Regions from separate parts of the Homo sapiens genome. Here region 2 is reported to be linked to region 1. The links are microRNA targets in miRTarBase. Many come from high-throughput screens and were not tested one by one. Region 1 holds a microRNA gene; the other region holds the end of a gene's coding sequence.
What was found. Region 1 holds the annotated microRNA hsa-miR-199a-5p (CCCAGUGUUCAGACUACCUGUUC, at 2,250-2,272, opposite strand). A microRNA usually pairs through its seed, bases 2 to 8, with sites in the 3' UTR of a target mRNA and lowers its output. Matches are read on the target gene's strand: a 7mer-m8 pairs with bases 2 to 8, a 7mer-A1 pairs with bases 2 to 7 and ends in A, and an 8mer does both.

Region 1 (3,128 bases):
ATCCTGCCTTCATTCAGCAGAGCTTTATAAAATGAGCTTTTACCTTTGATCTTTAATTTAGCCCATATAATTGAAAAATAAGTACTATTCGTTTTCATTTGTTAAAACTTTGCCTCGAAAATAAGTCGCTAGAGCCACATCAAGCATGTGCAGGAACTCCTTGGTTATCCTTTTACAAAGTAATTCTTATATTTCTACTCCTGTACTTATGCCAGAGGCACCCTTATGTCCCTTCTATCTCCAGACTAAAAGTCATCCTGAGGGAGAAAATAGGTGAGGGACCCATAGGGATTCATTTCTTTGAAACAAAAAGACCGTTTAACATGAAGAAAGAAATTGAAATTAAATATACATTAAATGAAAGCAAATTTTGAAATGTAATCATTTCTAGAGTAAAAAAAAAAAAAAAACCCAGAAAATTTGAGAAAAACATTACCAAAGTACCTTGTTAGCTATTTTTCCTCTTCAGTAATTGTATCAATTAGAAAAAATATATTTCTTGAAAAAATGAGCTCCTCTAAGTTACTTTTTTTAGTTTTCTTATGTAAAAGAAACTATATAGATTTTTAACATCTCATTTGTTCTACTAAAAATAATTAATATGGAACTCTCCAAGTCACAATAGAAAATGAAAGGATAACTTTACTATATCATCTAAGTGAAAGTAGCTAAATTTCTCCTTGCTGTTTATATTTTAACTAATAATCATGAATATATGAGAATACTTAATGTTTTCTTTATACACATTTTGGGGTGATCAGAAGGGTAATTTTTAAAGTAAGTTGTTTTGACAAAAGAAAACTTAGGGAATCTTTTATAATAAAATATTTTGCTAAAGAGAACTTGAGTCAATTTTTGAATTGTTGCAAAATGTATAACTTAGAAAAGAATTTGTTCAGGAACCACTGTAACTTTAAAGGAGGACAAAAGAGATTATGTTTATTTTTCACAAACCCTGTAGAAGAGATGTTTTCATTATATAGAATTGTTTCGGAATAGAAATTAATGGGGGTTAAGAAAATTAGGGATGAGGCAATAACATTTTTCCAGAACTTTCTTTAAGGGGCCGACCTCTAAAGTTCAGCACAGATCACATTGCAATCCAGACTTGCTCTATTATTTTCTCTATTAGGATTTCATTCAGCTTGAGGGTTTTCTTCCCTCCCACCTTCCTCCCCCTCTCCCACCCTCTTTCACCTCCAGGACAGCTGGAAACTGACCAAAGAAAACTTCTGCCTTCGTTTACAAATTCCTTTTTTATCAGTGGGTTTCTAGACAAAGTGCCTTATTTTAAATGCTCAGAGAAGTGGAAGCATTGTAAGCTATAGGCAAGAGGGCTCAGCTGAGCAGCAATTATTAACCACTCTTTGATTTAAAAAAAATGTAAAACAGATATTTACAGGGGTATCTAAAGATAGAGGTTTTTATTCCCTGATTTACTCAGTTGCTGACTCAATAAGTTGTGGGTCGGTGCTCTTCTCTGGGCAAATCCCATCTGCATTGTCTGGTAGGCAAGACTTGGCAGGTTCTTCTTTTATTGTTAGGTACTATTATTCCTGTTGTTTATATTACAGAAGGAAATCTTCAGAAAAGCACTATCCATATAGCATTTAAAAACCAGCAAGTATTCTTTACTTTGGGGAAAAATGACTTCAGTCCTGGGATGTTAAAAGTTATACATACAGCCTTCATCCATATAAGTTTTTAAATCTTTGAATTATTATTAAACAATTCAAAAGTAGCCTCATTAAACTATTCTTAAGTGTCTGGAATGAGTTTTTTCATATTTCATTTTGAAGTGGGAAAACCTTTAAGAAAACACTTGAATTATCAATCTTCAGAAATAAAAAAAAAAAAAACAGTAAATCGCTATATACCACACACTTTTGCTCTTTTAAAATTAAATACATCTCTACCCATCACACATGTACCTCTGTTTCCCTTGCATGTTAACACAAATCATGGGCTCCCCACCTAGGTTCCCTTGGTCACAGACCAGGTGAGCAGTCAAGAAGGCCTTACCCGCTGGTCTTCCCTTCGGCAGTCTTTTCTCAGCAGTGTCCCCGAGGGCTTCTTGGTCCCTAGTGTGCAAAACCTGTGAAGAAAAACACTGGATATGAGATTCAAAAAAGGAGCAAACAAATGTCTTCTCCTTGGAAACAGCCCATTTTGTCCCCAGCGGTCCATGGCGTTGCTCTCCCTTGCCCAGTCTAACCAATGTGCAGACTACTGTACAACGGCATTGTCCTGAACAGGTAGTCTGAACACTGGGGCGACGGAGCAGGATCTCCAGAAGCTTCCTTCTATGTACTTAAAATCCTCTCCCGGTCCTCAGGAAAAGCCTCCCTTCCTGCACCAGGGGTTGCATTCAGCTTTCCCCCCTGAATTCTGCTGCGCTGACTGAGACACACTCAAGGGCTGTGATTTCCAGTCTTGACGTGGCACATTTGCTGCAGACTGGGGAACTGGCAATGAATTTAGGACCAGGAAAAGGGGGAGGGCTGGGCTGGAGAGTCCATATATGGGATGATGTCACCCTGGGGAGGTTTGGGTATGCGCTGTGCCGCTGGAGAGACCGCTAGAATCGCCTGCTCTCAGACATGGGTCTGTGCATAAAATGGTACCAGATGTTTTAGTGTAACGTTAAGCAGTCATTTCATCTTCAGGCCAGATTTTTTTCCTCAACTGGGCAGGAAGTGGGCCCCAGTATGGAAAAGCTGTAAAAAAAAAAGAGTCAAGATGTACAGTTCGGCTGTGGCCAACTGAAAGTGAGTTAGTGTAGAAGTACAAATTTACTGTCTGACCCAGGCTAGAGAAGTAATTTGAAGATAGAGGGTAGATGAAATAGTAAACAGAAAGTTGAACACTGGAAGGCAGAGCTCATTTGGAAACCTTTTTGAGCTTTCCTGTGGCACTTTATTTTCTGGTATTTCACTCGTCAAAAAGGGCAGATAAGTTTCTGTCTGTCTGTCTGTCTGTCTGTCTCTCTCTCTCTCTCTCTCTCCCCCTCTTCCCCTCTCCCTCCCTCTCTCTCCCTCCCTCCCTCCTTCCCTCCCGCTCTCTCTCTCTTTCTCTCCTTCTCTCTCTCCCTCCTTCTCCTGTCTGTTGAATCTGTCAGCAGCTTGCAG
Region 2 (3,128 bases), not on the chromosome of region 1:
GACAGAGCAGGACTCTGTCTCAAAAAAAAAAAAAAAAAAAAAGTTTGACTAGTTGGAACTTTTTATAGTAATTGCATGTTTTTTAAGATCCTCATTGCCCTATTATACCCAATCTGTTTGATATGTAAGTTTAATATGTGGTTAATGCAAAACAGTTAGCTAATATACTATTTATTTTAAGCAAATGTATCACATAATTATCACAGACTCAGAAAATGGTTCTTCTCTGTGCTGTGTTGCCATAGAACCCTTTTTGTGTGTCTCTTTTTTATATATTTCTCACTTAGGCTACAGAGGACAGAAGGGAGAAAGAGGTGAACCTGGAATTGGGCTGCCAGGGAGTCCAGGTCTTCCTGGGACTTCAGGTAAGTGGGATATTGTCTTCACAACACAAGCAAGCCTTTACAAATTAGAACCATGCTTCTCCCCTAGGGTCCTTATATGTCAAGTCGAGTGATCCATGTTGGCTAGAGGGTGGGAGAGAGGAAGGGCCATATGTGATCTGCATTGTAATTTTTTTTTTATGTCGTTAGCTCTGGGTTTGCCAGGCTCACCAGGTGCCCCAGGCCCACAGGGCCCCCCAGGACCCAGTGGAAGATGTAACCCAGAAGATTGCCTCTATCCTGTGTCTCATGCCCATCAGCGCACAGGTGGGAATTGAACACACCTGAAGAAGACTTGGTTCCTGGTAACATTTCCTTGCCACTGGAGCTCTCTTAATACCGTCAAACCCTCATCATCTGTGGGTTGCTTTTTTTTTTTTTTTTTTTTTTTGGGAGTAAGCCAGGCATTAAAAGCAACCGTTTGAATCCTATTCCTATAGCAATTGCAAATCAGCATTTTTTGATTTTTCCCAAATTCATTCCATATGTTTTGCTTTACAATTGCTATGATTTTTACTCAGAGTTTTATATGAAATATGCAAGTAAATCTTATCGTTAGTTCTTCTTCAAAAGGAAATTGCATCTTGTGACTTAGTAGACTGATGATGATATCCATTTTGTAGACTCATCAACATGTGGTTGGCCTTTGATTTCTGAATTTTAAAGTTTCAGACTTATCTTTTCCTTGGTGTTTAAATTTACTATCATTGCTAAACATCTCGTCAACTTTTTTGATATAGTGCATTGCTCCTGTTGAATGTTTTTTGACTACTTTTTATAACTTAAGAATTTTTATACCATCTACATCTATCCTACTTATGCAGAAAAATAGGCAATAAGAACTTCATTTTACAATTTATGTTTTCAAAAAAAAAATGCAGGAAACTGTTTTATCAGGGAGCCCAAACACCCAGCATAGCCAACTACTGAAATGATTTTGTTAATTCTGTATAATGAGCTCAATTCAAAGCAATCACCACTGGCATGAATAAGTACTGCATGAAAAGGGAGTATCAAATTCCAGTTTTGTATGAGTTCTGCAAAAAAAGCCTAATATTCTGTGGTCCCCTCACTCAGTCTCTCATTTGGTAAACAGAAAGCTGTTTTCCCTACAAGGTGCTTGGTGGTGAAGCCACCAAGCTGTCTTTGGTACTCTTAAAGCTTCAGTGGCCTAGCAAGATCTTTGGGCCCTTGTATCCATTATCCTTATGACCTCATCACCCTCAGACTTTAAGACAAGAAGCCACCATCAAAACAAAGGATGGGATACGTATAGAATGGACTCACTTGTCCTAGAAGATGAATGTGTAGTGTCAGCAAATGCATGTTAAGAAGGTGAAGCCCAAAAGCTCTTAAGGAGAATTGTATTTCTCCAGAAGCTGCAGCAAGAGGTACAGCTCAACAAAGGAAAACCACAGGACTGGATATGCAACTAGTGCTCAGACCAAAGAGTTCACACCCACTCTAAAACCATGTCCTCTGAAAAGAAACAAAAATACAGTGATCATCAAATGCCTAAACAGTCTTTCTGTTGGTTAGCTGTACATTCATTGAGGAACTGTTGATTGGCAGGCACTGATTCTCTAGAACACTGGGCATGAGGATGTTGCAGAAATCTAGATGGTGGGTCCCACAGATGTGAGAACATGCTGCAAGAGCCTGCCAGCCACAGCAATCAGGACTCACAGCTCTTCAAGGAGCAGTGCAGATTTCAATTTGGCTAAAACAGGATGATTGCTTTTGTCTGTTTACTGAAAAATGAGTTTAGAAAGGCTAGCCCACTGACATTGGAAAAAGCTGTGAACAGAGTTGTGTCTGAGGAATGTGCCTAATTTAAGGCAGGGTTTGTTCCAATGCATCCGTGATTTGAACCGGTTTTCATTATAGATTAATGAACTGCTGGTCAGGTACTGTCTACAATGGCTGTGCATACCTATAACATTTTAGGTATTTCATATTGAATTATGCTGTATATTTCAATTCCAAGTTTATTTATTTTCCAAGGTTATTTTATTTATTGTAAGCATTTTGACATTGATTTTTTTTTTTTCGTTTTCTTTCTTGTGCAATACCTACAATGGTGCTGTGTTTTAAACTTACACAATTGGGACATACGTATGTGTTTTCTTAGTAAAATGGTAATTTATCCCGAAAAAGTGTACATAGATCTAAAATTTGGTGCTATGTGTATATCTTGAGCTTTTAATTTGTTGAATTTTCTAAACGCTTACAACTTATCTGCCACTCATATTAATTTACTTGAATTTGTCATAAAGCTAAATATTTTATATGTTTTCAAAGATTATTTTTTCATATTAATAGGTTGTTTATCTTTTTGCCTGTTTGCTAATTTAAAAATATTTATTTTATCATTTTAATGTTTTCATGGACTTTTTTGCTGATGGTAATCAACTTTTTTTGTTTTTTGGTTTTTGAGTTGTTCTTGTCATAGACATAAAAAGACAATTCATTTTCTTGTTTTATTAACTCTGTTCATTTTTATTCTACAAAATATGTCATGCATTCTTTCTTATGAATTGTATATTTAGAAATCTTTCTAAATACCATTAAGGCTTGACTGGTTAATTCCTATTTCAAGGATTTGGATTTATTCAGGTAATTTGATGGGATGGGGAAATATAATATTGTGTGATGCATATTACAAAGTGGACTTGTCACAATGACACAAACTCATTTTTTGTAACTGGGAAATATGACTAAATTTGACGTAACTAGAGAAACAAG

Region 2: the mRNA of COL19A1 is a reported target of hsa-miR-199a-5p. Seed matches in the 3' UTR shown: 7mer-A1 at 704-710 and 7mer-m8 at 1,972-1,978.

Annotation. Positions count from the first base shown.
Region 1 is chr1:172,142,343-172,145,470 of GRCh38, forward strand. MIR199A2 (microRNA 199a-2) reads right to left here and starts at 2,302; the gene lies at 2,193-2,302. All of the region lies in intron 14 of DNM3 (dynamin 3), which reads left to right. It overlaps DNM3OS (DNM3 opposite strand/antisense RNA), which reads right to left and starts at 2,493. Exons shown (of 4, transcript NR_103486.1): 1 at 2,312-2,493; 2 at 2,023-2,095.
Region 2 is chr6:70,206,614-70,209,741 of GRCh38, forward strand. COL19A1 (collagen type XIX alpha 1 chain) reads left to right here. Exons shown (of 51, transcript NM_001858.6): 50 at 288-365; 51 at 534-3,128. The coding sequence ends at 661. Among named protein-coding and RNA genes, the nearest start is that of COL9A1, 95 kb to the right of the region's middle.